Linked DNA regions of Homo sapiens: region 1 is linked to region 2. The links come from fine-mapping of genetic effects on gene expression. Tissue or cell type: whole blood. Region 2 holds a variant in brackets; the other region holds the start of a gene. All regions are shown on one strand. Distances are from middle to middle.

The links. PIP is the estimated chance that this variant, and not a neighbour inherited with it, causes the effect.
Region 1: it holds the start of NAPRT, and the variant in region 2 is fine-mapped to the expression of NAPRT in whole blood (INTERVAL, PIP above 0.99).

The regions. Positions count from the first base shown.
Region 1 is chr8:143,573,392-143,581,391 of GRCh38, forward strand. NAPRT (nicotinate phosphoribosyltransferase) reads right to left here and starts at 4,939. Exons shown (of 13, transcript NM_145201.6): 1 at 4,702-4,939; 2 at 4,425-4,552; 3 at 4,266-4,348; 4 at 3,878-4,008; 5 at 3,671-3,786; 6 at 3,255-3,451; 7 at 3,041-3,181; 8 at 2,687-2,771; 9 at 2,231-2,311; 10 at 2,032-2,134; 11 at 1,800-1,954; 12 at 1,595-1,702; 13 at 1,394-1,509. The coding sequence starts at 4,927. The coding sequence ends at 1,447. EEF1D (eukaryotic translation elongation factor 1 delta) reads right to left here. Exons shown (of 10, transcript NM_001130053.5): 6 at 7,838-7,937; 7 at 7,663-7,763; 8 at 7,115-7,336; 9 at 6,621-6,815; 10 at 6,337-6,439. The coding sequence ends at 6,401.
Region 2 is chr8:143,502,157-143,510,156 of GRCh38, forward strand. It overlaps ZC3H3 (zinc finger CCCH-type containing 3), which reads right to left. Exons shown (of 12, transcript NM_015117.3): 4 at 5,590-5,743. SNORD149 (small nucleolar RNA, C/D box 149) reads right to left here and starts at 4,092; the gene lies at 4,029-4,092. The variant C/G (reference allele first, on the strand shown) is at 4,195.

The sequences.
Region 1 (8,000 bases), 71 kb after region 2:
CAGTGCTGGAGGTGGGGCCTGGTGGGAAGTGATTGGATCCTGGGGGCAACTTCCCCCTTTGGTGCTGTTCCCATGATAAGACTTCTCAAGATCTGGTTGTCTGGAAGTGCGTGGCACCGCCCCACCCCTTCCTCCGGCCATGTAAGACCTGCCCGCTTCCGCTTCCACCAAGATGGTAAGTTTCCTGAAGCCTCCCCAGCCATGCTTCCTGTACCTGCAGAACCACAGGCCAATTAAACCTCTCTTCCTTAGAAATTACCCAGTCTCAGGTATTTCTTTACAGCAGTGCAAGAACGGAAGAATACAGCCACTCTGGCTGGGCCCCTCGGAGTGCGCGGGTGCCCTGGGGGTGCCTGGGGTGTGGTGTGTTCTGTCCAATGTGTGTGAGTCTGTATCTCTCTCCTAGCTCGTACTCCCCGGGGCTGGCTGGACTGGGCCTCTGCTCCAAGTCCCCACCCTCCACCCTCAGCCAACCACACAGTGGTGCTGCCCACCCTGAAGCCCGGGGAGCCAGGTGAGCTGGTCTGGTGGAATGCCTGGGCAGACGGAAGTGCCCCAGGCGGTCAGCATTCCCCCCACACCCTTGCCTGTCTGTGCCACCTCAGGCTGCTTCGACAAGAGAGGCCCAGGCCCCCAGCCTCCACTTCCTGCCAAGCCTAGAACCTCTCCCCCAAGCAGTTCCTCTTGAAGCTCACGTTGCCCAAACTGGCGGAACCCTGAGATCAGGAACTTGCTGGTGCAGAGGCAGGGCCAGCCCAGCACAGCCACGTGCAGTGCCACTCTGGCCAGGTGTCTGGGGCTGAGTCATCTCCTGGAGCTTCAACTTCTTCCCCATTCTTCCTCTCCTTCCGTGGGCTGCTGGGTCAGGAGCTGTGTCCCTGACGCCAGATGCCAGGGTGGTGCTGGGTTGGCAGCAGCAGTGGCAGGAGACACCTGAGCACTCCCTTTTGACTTGGGGAGTTTGAGACGTCTTCACTGACCCTGAGCCTGGGGGGCAGTGCCTAGGCAGGCGTGGGAGCCCAGGGCCACGGCTGGACCCTCTTACCTGGCACTACCCCCAACCCTGTCCTGTCCCCAGCCTGCCTCTAGCAAGGAAAGGTCTGCAGCAACTCCCTCAACTCCAAGGCAGACACCAAAGCCCTCCCTGCCTGTGGCTTTGTAGTTCTAGTGTGGGATCTGACTCCCCACAGCCTACCCAAAGCCGGGGAACTCCTCACTGCCCTTCGGGCTTCAGCACAGGGCTGTCTCCCACGCCGGCAGGGCCTGTGCTTTCACTGGGATGCAAATCTTCCTGCTACCTCGAGCTCAGATTCCCGACTCCAGCCCAGCCGCAGCCCGGGAGGCGCAGCCCGTGGGCTGGGTGAACAAACGACACAAACAACACAGGACAAGCTGTGGGGAAAAGTGAGTGATTCGTGTTGTTTCCAGTCAGCCCCGCTCCGAGTCTCAGGGGGACTGCCCCGCACACAGACTGTTCACCAGGGCCTGCAGCCTCTCGGACAGCACCACCTGCAGGGAGCAGAGGACAGGAGCGGTGGGCAGGGTGAGGGCGGGGGCGCACAGGGCAGAATGACAGGGTGGGCCTCCCCCCAACCTGGTACTGTGCAGGGCTCCGCAGCCGCCTGTGCTCAGGGCTGAGTCGGCTCAGGGACAGCTGGGCCAAGGCTCTAGACTCTGCCAGGGATGGGAGCGGCTCACACAGCTGCAGGGAGGAGGTAAGGAAAGAGAAGCTTGGGGCTAGCTCCCAGTCAGGGCTCTACCGGGGCTGGGGGTCAGGATGAGGGCGGTGGGGCAGCCACCTGTCCCTGCTGGAGGCAGAGCCGCAGTAGTGGCTCCACCTGGGCTGGCCTCACGGTGCAGGGCTCCTGGGCCCCTGGAGGCCACACCCTCAGCTCCTGCCCAGCCTGTGGCACTGGCTCTTCTGCTAACTGCAGCATGTCCATGAGTGGAGACCCTGTGTGGACGGGGCAAGAATAAGCGGGGGCCCTGGTGCTTTGAAGGTGGACAGCAGGGGGGATGGGAGGGCCTCACCGTCAGAGCCCAGGAGCCGGAAAGCAGCCTTGCTCCCAGGCAACGTCTGCTTCTCGGGGTCCTCGGTCAGCTTCATTCGTGGCTGGCCCCCCACGGCCACCAGCTGCAGGAAGAGGGCGTTGAGCTGGCTGGTCCTTATCCCCCACCCAGCACCATCCCTCAGACCTGCCCCCACCTGGGCCCCCGACACTGTCCCTACCTTATAGACGCCACCCAGGGAAGGCTGTTGGGGGCAGGTGACCACACTGGTGCCAATGCCAATGACATTCACCTCACTGCCCTGGGTGGGGAAGGGGGTGGCCGTGAGCCCAGCTGCCCTGGGTGGGGAAGGGGGTGGCACTGCCCTGGGTGGGGAAGGAGGTGGCACTGCCCTGGGTGGGGAAGGGGGTGGCAGTGCCCTGGGTGGGGAAGGAGGTGCCAGTGCCCTAGGTGGGGAAGGAGGTGGCACTGCCCTGGGTGAAGGGGGTGGCAGTGCCCTGGGTGGGGAAGGGGGTGGCAGTGCCCTGGGTGGGGGAAGGAGGTGGCAGTGCCCTGGGTGGGGAAGGGGGTGGCAGTGCCCTGGGCGGGGAAGGAGGTGGCAATGAGCCCAGCCAGAACCTGCAGGGGCCCCCAGAGCCCCCCAGCCACCCTCCGCCTACCCACTCATCCACCCCACCTCCTGGGCCAGTCGGGCCAGCGCCTCCTCGTCAATGTTGTTGCTGACTACGATGAGGACTGACTCCAGCCAGGGCACCTGGAACCTGCCGCGTGGGTGGAGAAAGGGTGGGGGCCACCCCTCGGGTCTTCCTGATTCACCCTGGTGTCCCCCTGCTCCCCGCCCCGCCTCAGTCAAGGACACCTGTGCTCACCTTCTGCTTGGGAGCTCCTAGGGAGCCCCACCACTTACTTCCCTGCCACGGCCTGCAGTATCACCGCTGAAACTTCAGCAGAGTACCTCACTGTCCTTCCCTGCCCATTCCCAAACCCCGGGGATCTCCCACCAGGCACACCTCCTCCCCGGGAAACTCACTGGGCTGCAGCAGCTCGGAAGACCTTGCGGATCTCCTGAGCCTGCTGTAGCAGGTCACCACTGTCCAGCCTCACGCCCACTGCCCGGTAGCCCAGCTCTCCCAGGGCCAGGGCGACTGCTAGGAAGTTGGGGAGACCACTCCTGCAGAAATAGATAAGGGAGTCAGAGGCTGCTGAGGTTCTGCTGAGCCCACCCCTAAAGTGCCCGGGCTCACCTCCACACGCTGTAGGTGTCCAGGAGGCCCTGGAAGGCCCGGGGAAAAGCCAAGGCATAGGCCACAAAGGCTGCCCGCTCGCCTGGATGCGGCTCCTGCACCCCCAGCCCCAGGTGGGCACACACCTGCTCCAGCCACACCTGGGCTTTGGCCGCCAGGTCCACCCCAGGGCCCTCACCAGCTGCTGGCGCCAACATCTGTGGAACAGAGTCGGTGAAGAATGGGGGCCAGGAATGCAGGATGAGGCCTGGGAGCAGCCAGGGACACCCTAGTTTGAGAGCAAAGGTAATGCAGCCCGTGCCAGCTTCCTGGGACAGCACTGGGGTGACCTGCCTGGGTGGCACACCTCTCGCCAGGGCAAGGGCTGGCTTGGGGCCTGTCGCCTGGAGACAGCAGGGTTTAGAGGAGGGACTGACCGGGTCAGGGGGCACCTCGCTGCCTGAAAAGGAAGTGACGAAGGAGTGGGCCAGGGTCCCGGCCACCGGCACACCTCGCAGCTGGCCCGCTAGCACGTTGCTGCTGCTGTCGAAGCCTGGGGAGGAAGGCGGTGGGATTGGGGGACCTCGGGCCAAGATGGGGCTCCTCCTTCCCGGCCCTTGCCTTGCCCCGCACCAGACACTCACCGCCCAGGTAGCTGTAGGTGGAGGCTGTCAGGCCCCCATCGGGGCCCTGAGCCCGCCTCAGGCCCATCTCTAGCAGCCGCTTCTCTGGCCCTGCGATCAAGCGAAGCCGCGCTGCGTTGGTGGCCACCAGGCTGTGGGGAGCCAAGAGTCAGGGGGTCCCAGGGTGAGGATCACTAGGCCACCCAAGACGGCGGTTACCTGGGGCCTGGAACTTCCAACCTGGGAGCTCCACCCTCACCCAGCCCCTCCTTACACCCTGAAGAGTGGGGGCGGGAGGCCAGTCCTGGGACCCCTGGGCAGCCAGCCCCGCCGCCACAGTCCAGCACGGAGCCCCGGCGCTGGGGGCCCATCCCATGCCCACGCTCCCTGCCAGTGGCCCGCAGCCCACCTGGCGTAGCTGACCAGGCAGAGCAGCGGTGTCTCCAGCAGCTGCACCACCAGGAGCGGCCCGGACACCTGCAGGAGCGGCACCTGCGGGGAGAGAAGTCAGCTCCGCGCTCGGCCCAGCACCCCGTGGCCGCCGCGCCGCCCGCTTACCCCTACTCACTCCGGGGAAGGCGAGGGAGCCCTCGGGCAGGGCTCGCACCGTCACCTCGGAGCAGTCGAGGGCCCGAAGGTGCTCGAAGAACGCAGGATCCGTGTCTGGGGGCAGCACCGAGGCCAGGAACTGCACGTCTGGAAACGAGGTAACTGCGCTGAGACCAGCGCGGGGACAGACCGGTCGTGGGACATGGGGGGTTCCACGGGGGGACAAGGACTTCCACCGGCCATAGGTGGGGGTTTCTGCCGGGCGTGGGGGGCTCGTCGCGCGGACGGGGGACTACCGGCGTCCCGCAGGCGGAAGGCGCGCAGGAAGCGCACACAGTCGCGCAAGCCGGCGGCCAAGGCGAAGGCGCCGCCGAACGGGCAGCGGCGGAAGAAGAGCTCGAACTCGGCGGCGTCCCGCGCCCGGCCCGCGCGCCAATAGCCCAACGCCATGGTGGCCTGGTAGAGGTCAGTGAGCAGCGGCCGCGCCGCCGCGCGCGCCTCGGGGTCCTGCTCCGCCGCCATCCTGCTCCCGACGTCCGGACTCCGCCCCGCCCCGACCCCGTGACGCGCCCCGGCCTATGGCGCACTCCCTGTGGGGCTTATCGTGCCGTTTGGGAGCGGCACGGGACTCGATGGAGGACGGGTGGGGCTAATAGTATCGGCGCGCCGAGAGGGGCTGAAACAGCTGGACCCGGGATGGGGTGGGGGATGTCACCCAACTCCTCTCGGACCCCCCAACCCCACTCCAGGCCCAACGGCCTCTTTGGAGCGCAGCCCGGTCTTGGTCACCAGAGGTGCCCCCAGTCGCTCGTGTCTCTGCCCTTTGGCCGGGCAATGAGGTGCAGCTCAGGACTTGCCAGGCGGCGGAAAGGGTGGAGGACAGACCAGCCAGACTCCACCCCCACCGACCCAGAAGACAACCGCTGGCCAGCAGCCAGCTCCTGCCCTGGGCCTGGGGAGGGAGGCCAGAGGCTGCCTTAGTTAGAGCTTGAGCAGCCAGGCTAGGACGAGGCAGCCCAGATGGACGCAAATGTCGCTTGGAAAGAGCTTGGCACCCAGGAAAGGGCGGCGTGGGGCAGGGGGGCGCATGCCCACTGTCGGCTGGCACCAAAAGACCTTTTGTGGCTATGAAGGCCCAGTGTCCCTCAGTGGTGGCTTTTATGGGGTCCTGCAGTCCAAGCCCCACAGGAAACTTTCTAAAGGTTTGAGGGCAAAGTCAGGGGCCACTACCCAGGGAGAATCCATTCCCCTGTGGCTTGGGGCCCCGAGGACAGAGTCTGACCAGAAGTAATCAAGTAATTACACCCCATCCTCTTTCACCCCAATGCAAACACGGGTGGTCCAGGGGAGGGAGTGTGGCCACCCATGCTGACCACATACGGCTGTCAGGATGCTGAGGCACAGCTCCACAGAGCCCAGGCAGCCACGTTCTGGCCACCCCAGAACATCATGGGAGGGGCACAGTCCCTGGAGCAAGGGGCAGGGATTCCAGGAATGAATGAGGTGAGGGGAGGGCCGGGACAGCACATGACAAAGGGCATGGCAGCAGGGCCGGGTGCTACTGGGACTTCTTTCCTGGACAATTCCAGGCTTGCACGCTTGCTCCCATGGGGACAATGCCAACAGGAGGCAGAGTGGTGGGGTGGTGGCCTCTCCAGATAGTGACCTAACAGTTTCTGTTTCTGGCTTTTTAAACCCCCTGAACTGGACTTGCTTTTGCAATGGAAAGAAGAGGGAGGGCCAGAGCTTTGGGAGGGAGTGGCCAGGAGATGGAGGGACAGGCGGAGGTCTGCTGGGGGCAAGGTGACATGGCCACAGAGGGTGGCAGCAGCCAGGATGACTGTGTGGGAACAGCAGGGCAGAGATGGGGCTGAGACAGGGAGGGAGACAGGCCAGGTACGAGCAGGAAATGACCAGGACGGAGCCAGAGGGCCGGTCTCAGTCTTTAATCGTGGCAGGGCCTCACGCACGCGCGCACGTACACACACTCAGGCTTCAGATCTTGTTGAAAGCTGCGATATCGACACTCTGCACCTGAGGAGAGGCGGAGGGTGACGGTCAGGGCTGTTCCCCTACAGCCCACTCGGAGCCAGGAGCCTCCTCTGAGGTGGGGTTCACTCTGGGACTCGCTCCCCACTGCCGTGGGGTGGAGTGCAGGGTATGGGCCAGGGTCCCCAGTCTCCTCTCCCCTCCTCTCCCCGGCCGGCTCACTCACGTGCTCCTCAAACTTGGTGATCTCCTCCTCCAGCAAGTCTGTCCCCACCTTGTCGTCCTCCACCACACACTGAATCTGTAGCTTCCGGATACCGTAGCCCACGGGCACCAGCTTGGAAGCCCCCCAGACCAGCCCGTCCAGCTGGATAGAGCGCACACAGGCCTCCAGCTGGGCCATGTCCGTCTCATCATCCCACTGTGGGGAAAGGGGAGGAAAAGCTGGGGTCAGCCACCCTCAGAACACCCAGGAAGTACCTGCATGCACCCTACCCTCAACCACTGTGTGTCCACAATTCTGTTTCCTTAAAGGGCCCACAGAAAACAATCCAAATTCACACCTTCCTGCCTCCAAGTTTGTGTTTATCCCAAGACTTCTAAACTCGGCTTTAAAGTCTCCCCAGAACCCAGAGGGCAGGGGGAGGGTCACAGGCTGAGCCGGCTAGGCGGGCACCAGGGCAGTGCCTGGCCCCCTGAAGCCCCACCCCGCCCACTCACAGGCTTGACATCCAGCAGGATGGAGGACTTGGCCACCAGTGCAGGCTTCTTGGCCTTCTTCTCCGCGTACTGCCGTAGCCGCTCCTCCCGCAGCTGTGCCGCCTCCTTGTCCTCCTCCTCATTGTCACTGCCAAACAGGTCAATGTCATCATCCTCGTCATCCTCTGCTGGTGTGGCTGGCTTCTTGGCTGGGGGCTCCACTTGGCGCATGGGAGATACGTGCTGCCACAGGGGAAGGGACAGGAGGCACGGCTGAGACGCCCCAACCAGGGCCCAGAGCTGCCTGGCCACCTCCTGGCCCTCCTCCCTCCTTTGACTGGAGGAAGGGCAGCCCCTGTGTACCGCAGCTGTGTACATGCAGGGCCCCAGGAAAGACAAAAACTGCCTCCACCTGCCCAGGGCTAACTGTAAACCTTCCTGGGGACCTGAGGACTCCAGTATCCTGGCTGCCAGCTCATCACTGCTGCTGGGGCCAGCCCACAGGGCGACGTGGAAGCCAGCAGGGCCACGTGGTCCCCTGCAGTGTCAGGCGTGGGGAGAGCATTCACCTGGGTCTGTGGGGCCGTGGCCCGGTGGCCAGGCGAGCTCTTCTCCAGCACGTTCAGCCGGGCCTCCAGCTTGGAGATGGCCTGCTGCAGCTCCTGTACCACTGGGGGGGCAAGGGGAGCACGGTTAGATGGCAGGGGCCAGGGACAGCCCCAACCCACTGGCCCGGGGCCTCACCGCCACGCAGACTCTGGTTCTCCACTTCCAGACTGGCAATCCGGACGACGAGCTCACCGTGGTCTCCGCTGGTGCCGCTGGAGGCCCCGGGGCCTGAGCTCTGCAAGGCAGGAGGAGGGGAGGGCTCAGTGCCCAGCCTGCTCCTAGGGTCCCCCTGCCATGC
Region 2 (8,000 bases):
ACCTGGTCTCAAACGTCCGGCCCAGGACTGTGAGAAGTCAGCGTCTGATGCTGAAGCCCCAGTCTGTGCTACTGTGTGACACGGCCCCAGCCGACGAAGACAGTGCCCAAACCAGAAGACGGGCAGGAGGTGGGGCAGGGTGGCTGGCGTCCCAGGAGGCTGTGCAGGCACACCTGCTCATTAAGGAGACACGCGTGGGGAGCGCAGCATCGCAGTGAGGACCCCTCCCGTCCCCAGGCTGAATTCCTCTTTAATGAGACGCCACTTTGGAGAAGCGTTTCAGAGCCCTTCAAAATCCTGGCCTAACTCTCGTCAAAACTGCACAGATTACTTAAGATTTACCGCACAGACACAAACTAAAATAAAATAAAATAAGGCAGCCCAGTGAGAGGCAGCCTCGTGACAGGACCATTTGTAGTCAGATGGAAAAGCCTCCGATTCATCTGCTTAAGCACAGCAGCTTCTGTTTATTTCGCACTTTCATGTCAAATGAATTTGGAAAGAGAAAAAAAGTGACAAGCAGTTAGGGATATAAGTCACATTTCAGCTTCAGTTCAGATTAATGAACTTGCTGGAGCTGGTGAGGGCACCGGCAAATCTACAAATCTCAGAACAACAAAAAAATTAAATCCCCTCAGCAGAGCCTCAGCCTTCAGGGTGACTCCTCCAAAACCCTTCACTGACCTTCTGCCTCGCACCCCTGCATTCCAGGCCCTCTGGGACAGGCTTCACTTCAAGGCAGCAGTCCTGGGGCCCGGGGGAGGGCTGGCCAAGGCCGGCTCTCAGGGACCACTGTGGCATGGCCGAGGTATGCGTAAGGCAGCAGTACAGTAAGCTCCCAGGGTCCCCGAGCCAGAGCAACAGCCCCGTCCTGTGTATTTGGCAGATGCGACGGGCACCACGCTCAGCAGAACAACCCAGTCCCATGCCTCAGCTTCTGGGGAGAGGTGGCACATGGCCAGCACACCGCCAGCATGCCCCCGTCAGCTGTTGCCCCGCCCCAAGCAGCCACATGGCCGGGCATCTGCAGGCCAGGGCAACGCGGCCTCTGATGGGAGCACAGGTGGCACCGTGGATGCCACCCGTTGAGGCAGGAGTCCCGTTCTGCCCTTGGCATACAGGCACTGCTCCTTTTCTCCTCCCACCCTCTGCCCCACCCCAGTCTCCACACATGATGTCTGGCGTGTGCCTCAATGGTGTGCCCATCCTCAGAGACCCTGGCTGGCAGCACACAGAAGCCCCAGAAGCTACTGCCCAGCAGCCTCTGCCTTCCATCTGACAACGACGAGCACTGGCCGGCCACAAACCTGAGGCCACTGGTCAGCACCCAGCCATCTCCCGACCACCTCCCCCAGCACCCAGCCATCCCCCGACCACCTCCTCCAGCACCCAGCCATCTCCCCAACACCTCCCCCAGCACCCAGCCGGCTCCACCACCACCTCCCCCAGCACCCAGCCGGCTCCACCACCACCTCCTCCAGCACCCAACTGTCTCCACCACCACCTCCTCCAGCACCCAACTGTCTCCACCACCACCTCCCCCAGCACCCAGCCGGCTCCACCACCATCCCCTCCAGCACCCAGCCATCCCCCGACCACCTCCTCCAGCACCCAGCCATCTCCCGACCACCTACCTCCTCCAGCACCCAGCTGGCTCCCCACCGCCTCCTCCATGTTCAGGTCCAGAGAAAGCCGCTGACAGGGAGGAGAGGCCCCAGCCCCTATTACAAACCCAGCCATCAACGGGCCCTGACGCTGTCCTCCAGCCTTCCACATGGGCCCAACATGACCACCAGGCCGACAGTAAGTTTCTACTTAAATTAGGAGGGGGAGAGAGAGGGCGCGTGTGCCAAATCACCCCCTGGGACAGGGCAGAGGCCTAGACTCAGGCCGGGCACTCACTTGCCTACCCTCCTTCCCTCGGGCTGCAGGGAAGGGGAGTTTCTAGAGCTTCCCAGAGGAGGGAACAGGCCTAATCACCCTGAGCCCTCCCCAGTGCCCAGGGCAGAGCTAGGGCCAATAGCTCAGGGCCTGGGGCTCTCCAACCGAAAGCTGAGAGGAACTGCAGAGGGGTCCTGGGGGCTCATGGCCAGGAGAGGGGCCCCTTCTCGTGCCTCCTCAGGGCGGTGCAGTCCCCGCCATGAGCATCACAGCCAAGGGGAGGGGACGGGAAAAGAGGGCAGGGGAGGTCCCAGGGACAGGGTCAGAGAGAGGACAAGGTGAGGGCTGTTGTCAGCAGCAGAGCTGTGCAAGCTTCACTGCGGCAGCCTGTGTTACTGTTTCTTGTCCCCACCTTGGGCAGGGCCCAGTCCCATTCCTCTCAGGACGGGTGGTAGAGGTCCTGCCCCCTCCTCCGTCTTTGGGGTTCCAGCTCAGGCCCTGTCCTGAACACCCCACCACAATCAAGCCTAGAGACCCTACCCATTTCGCATGGTACAAGCAGGCAGGGACGGGCTGTCAGGTTCACGCTGCACTGCGCTGCCCCCAACTACACCCTACCCAAGATGCTCAGCCACTCCCAGCACCTGGGACCTTCATGTGCATCCTGGGGCAGGGTCAGCCTGGCCTTCACACACAGACCCCCAGGGCCTTCCCTCAACACTCAGAGCCCCCTGGGCCTCACTGTACTCCCCACTGCCGTCCCTTCGCAGAGCCTCTGCCAGCGGCTCCCTCTCCTCCCAGAGCAGTGCTGTTGGCCTCGTCCATCTCCCAGGAGCTGGCAGCTTCACAGAGAGCAGGCCCGGCTCCATGCTCGGAACTCGCGGGTTTGCTTCAGCAACAGAGCAAGATGCTAAGGCTCTGAGGGCAAGAGGCCTAGATGACTTCCTCTCAGGGTGACCAGATCTCCAATCACAGTGAGGGGTCGGCTGGGGCATCCCACACCGGCGCTGTCCCTCAGCCACTAGTCACCCTGCCTCCCTCCCCTCCCGCGTGTCCACCAGCCCCTGCCAACTCTGACCACCGTGGCTTCCAGGACTGCTGGGGCTTGCCCGCCAGCCCCTCCAGGGATGGGAGAGGGAGCTGGGGCCCAAGGAGAGCTCTGGTCTCAGGCTCCAGCCAGCCAACTGGCAGGACAGCCTGCCTTCTTCCTCTCCATGGCAGCCCTTAGTCCATGGTGGCCTGGGCCTGCCGAGGGAGGGCTGAGGGTCCAGCCACATGCAGGCAGCCCTGGCTCTGATGCAGCACCGGAGATGGCGCATGGGCCAGGCTAGACCAGCCGCTGGCCCAGACGCCCTTTCTGCCTAAACAACCCCGAGCCCAGGCACGCAAACAGGCAACAGCAGGCCAGGCAGCCATGCTGGGACGCAGGTGGCAGGTGACCCTGGGCGAGGCAGGCCCAGCCCACTGGTGGCCATTCTTCCCAGGACTTCCTAAGAGTCGTGCCCCTCAGCTCAGCACCCTCCCCACTCCACTCCCACACCCTATCCACAAGCCCAGGGTTCGTGTCCCGAAGGGTCCCAGACGCCTGGCAAGGAGTGGAACAGGACTGGGGTGAGGCGGTCAGGAAAGCAAGGAGGGCCCCTCACACACCCCCTCAGCCACATGTGCATCCTGGGGCGGACTCAGCCTGGCCTTCACACACGGAGAAGACACTGAGGCCTGGAGCCCATGGCCACCAACCACAGCCAGGGCCTCCAGGGGTGGGCTGAATTCAGGCTTCTGGTGCTGGGGCCCTTGATCCATCAAAGGCGATGCCTGCTCCACCTCCTGCCCACCCATGCCTGTGGTGCAGCCCCTACACCAGGGCACTCAGAGAGTCACGGCCGCTCCCTGCAGGGCAGCTGGCCAGGCTTCACTTTGGAAGGACAGGGAACTTGGAGGGAGCCTATCAGCTGACCCGCTGCTCTCAGCCACATGGCGCCGACAGGAGGCCCTGGGCGCTGGGCCGGCTGCCACCTCCTCCTCCTCCCGGCCTCCTCAGCCCCAGGGCATGGGCACTTGTTTCTGTGCAACAACACCATCAGGGCCCTCCTGGGCAGGCCCAGCTACAGGAACCAGACCAGCCGGACCCAAACCAGACGCCTTCTTGGCCTTCAGAATCCAGAAGGAGAGGCCCTGCTGGGTCCGCCCTGAGGAAAATCATCACTTGGCCCCGAGCCGCACCCCTGGGAGAGGTGGACCCTCGACGTCGGGCTGACGACGACCACAGGACGGGAAGCAGGAGCGGAGAATCCATAAATCTGAACCTCATTC[C/G]CGATGATCCGGGGCTCTTATTAAGTAAATTAATTTAAGTTAATTTAGCTCGATCATGACTCCCGATCACAGTGATTTAGTGTGGGGGAAATTGCATTAGGAAAGGCCATGCTCACCAGATAGAAGAACGGAAGAAAATTAGATCCACTTAGCAATGTGAATTAATATGGAAATAGCAGGTGTAAATTTAACCTTATCGAGAGAATAAAAATTATCTTCATAAATTTGCAGAAATAGCCCCCGAGATGCTTATAAATCTATTTAAAACAAAAATATTACAAAAAGTGCAGTAAAATTAATTTAAAATATACTCCAGCTATTGCCTCCAGAAAACTCAGCAGCAGGGCCAAGCTGAGTGTGGCCTGGTGATACGGGAGGCAGCAGGACACCACCTGGTGGGCTCGCCAGCTGGCTGACCTGCCACGAGGCTCCAGAGCTGGGTAGGGCTGTCCATACTGGTGGGTGGATCCCCTGGGGTTAGCCTCAGGCCTGGAAACCTCTGGCTAGCAGCAGGGAACCACCAGGCAGCTACGGTCCGGTGGGTGGCCGTGCCCTGGGCCGTGGCTGCTCGCCCTGAGGCCCTGCCCACCATCTCTGGCCCACGCCACTCCCCCAGGAGCAGATTCCCGCGGGGAGGGTCAGAAGACAGAGGGAGGGGTCTGCCACTGCCTGCTTCCCATCTGCCTGCCAGAGCTATTACCCTCTCCCAACCTGGAGATGGGGCACCACCACCACAGCAAAGGAAGGGGCCAACCTCCTAGAGCCAGGCCTCCTGAGGCCCAGAGGCTGAGCAACCTTGACTGAGCAGGTGGCAAAGCCTCCCGGGATAGCGGCCCCAGGAGGGCAAAAGCTGTTCCCTGCCGACAGAGCCGCCCTCCCAGCCTGCATCGAGGTCAGAGTGCGAGTGGGGGCCAGAACACGGACAGGCAGCCAGCAGCAGGGCAAGGAGTAGCTCACATCACCGCCTTGACAATCATACATTGACAGCTTCCAGACAGACCACTGAAGGCCCAGCCTCTCCCACCAGAAGCTTCTCCCCGAGAGATGCTCAGACAGCACATGGCGTGGGCCCTGACCGTCTGGGCAGCAGAAGCTTTCATGGCACAGAGCCCTCACCAGCTAATAGGCTTGCTGAGAACAGCAGAGCATGTGTGTGCATGTGTGTCCGTCCGTCTTCACGTGTATGTGGTAAACACAAGCTGGCCTCCTATTTGGTGCAGAAATTGCTAAAGACACAGAAAAATCAGGCTGGTCCCCAGCCAACGAGCCCAACACCAAGCAGTTCTGGGATGTGCTCAGCTCCCCCTGGCCCTTGGATTCTACCCTGCAGCCCTCAGGGCAGGGCCAGACAGCCCAGTTCCCAGGCCTGCAGGAGCCTGCAGGAAGCCTTCCTACCTGGATAGTGAGAGCCGCCGGGCCCGCCAGGAGGGCAGAGACAGGGGGAAGGGCGGGGCGCTGAGAGGCGAGGCCGGCGTCTTCTTGACAATGCGGTAGCGGGTCTTGATCACCTTGCTGGTGGGTGCAGTCCGCACGGCATGCAGGCTGGACGCTGTAGAGAAAACCCAGGGCACAGACATGGGTCAGGGAAGGCCGGCAAGGGTAGGGTCAGAGAGGCCACCCACAGTGCCAGCTCTGCCCACCGCCTCCGCCGGAGCTTGAAGACCCTCCATCGCCCCGTGGATAAAACCCTCAACCCATGTGGCACACACATCCCCAGGGCGCCTGGCAGCCGACGCTTCAGGAGCTAGCCAGTGCAGCCTCTGAGAGGCGGGCACCAGCCCCGCACACCCTCCAGCCATCTGGAGAAACAAGGGAATGCCCACACCACAGGAAAACCAGGAGAAGCCAGGGGTCTGGCAGCCGGGGATGCCTTGGAGTCCCCTAGACAGTATCCGCAACAGGGGGACTCGAGGTGGCTGACTGACTTCCAGCAGAGCAGTGAGGAAGGCAGATGGGCCACCTCCACCCAGGCCAGAGGGGCGGGGCTGGGAGGCTCCTGGCCTGTGCCCTGCACAGGGGAGGGGCGCTGGAGCACTCACCTCCTCAAGCGGCACCTCCTCACCGCTGTGCCCAGACAGACTTATGTACTTAGTCACTGTTTTCATAACATTTTGCAGGGTGATAGACACGACGGCTTTTTTCTTGCTGAATGTTTCATGCAATTAACAGGAATCTTTTGCCCGAGTTCCCTTCCACTTGATAGCTGGCAATTTACCCACAGCTTCGAGGGTTGCGTCTAATTGCCCAGCTTGCATCATGTACAGCTCTGACTGCCCAGATCATTAAAGCTAACTCAGCAGTGGGCACAGGCCCGCCTTCCCAACAGCTTCCCTGGCAGCCCAAGGCTCAGGGGCTGCTGCAAGAGGCCCCCGCCCCCCTCCACCCCCTTCAGGGTCGCCCACAGGAGGACCCCACCCAGCCCAGCCCAGGGGACCTCACTTCCTTCCAGTCAGTGCCCAGCTTCCCCTGTGCCCGGGACCCCTGACTGCCCAGGACACACCCTCTTGGCCCCCACAGCCAAACAGCCCTCGAGGCACCCTGCTCCTTGGACAGGACCAGTAACTGTTACCATTTCCCAAATTCTTTTCCAGAGCCCTAAACGCAACGGACCTTGAGCAGCCAGGGCCCCTCCTTGAGGCCGAGCTTCTAGCCCATCTCTCCACAGACTCGCTCACTCTCCTGCCCACACTGCCCTGTCCAGATGTCAGCAAAGAGCCCCTCCCTCAGGCGTTCCCCCAGCACCATCCAAGCTGCAGCCTCTACTCAGGCACCTGTCAGCCTGCACAGGAGCAAGTCAGGAACACTTGGCCCCAACATGACATCAAAGCCTTCCCCAGAGTCCCCCAGAGTCCACATCAGAGAGTCTGCCGATTGTATTTTCAAGGTCTTACAAACAAGGAGAAACCAGCAAAAAAATCAATAATAGCTTGTTTCAACTAAGCGCTGGAGAACGTAAGAAGTCCTTAAGTTATCAATAACCCCGAGGTGACCTCACCACCTTCCAGCCCTGCTGCAGGCTCCTTGCTTCTGCCTGAGGAGAGCATGGGCTGCCCGGCTGCTCCTGCCCCACCTGGGCCAAGCTGGGGGCCAGCCTTGGCACCTGGGCAGTCAGGGCACCCACTGGAGCACTGCCAGCCATGGGGCCGGGCCTCAGGGCTGCCACCAGCCCACCCCCAACCCCAGAGTGCCCAAATGGCCCACTTGCCAGCCTGCAGCCTGCTTCCCACCATGGCTTCCCACAAGCCTCCCAGGCCGCCCAATGCCTGCTGCTCTGGGACGCAGAGCCTGGGGCGATGCTGGCCCCTTGGAGCCACAGCATGACAAAGCTAGGGTACAGTCCTGCTCAGAGGCCAGGTGGGGCCAAGCAAGGCAGGAGGGACACTGGGCCACACTCGGGACACTGGGCCACCCTCGGGCCCCGGGGGTTCATGTTCCCCTCCCCATCAACCTCTTTCCCCAAATTCTAAGTACAGGAGCCCCCAGACCTGGCCCAGCTCCATTCCCGTCGCCAAATGCACAGCCTCCCTTCGGCTAAAATCACTTCTAACCTTGGGAACCAGAGCTCGCCCTCCCTCCCAGGTCCAGCACATGCCAAGTCCTCTAGGAATTCCCAGCCCCGACTGCACACAGGACTGGACTCTGCATTCTAGAACACTTCTGCCCAGGAGGGGCAGCTTGGGGCAGGCAGGGCCTGGCGGGCGGCGGCACCATGATCACACTCCTGCGCAGTGCTGGCAGTGGTCAGGTCAGGCTTCTTTGCCTTACTGCGTGTTACTTCTTAGTGCCCAAGTGTCACTCCTGAAAAC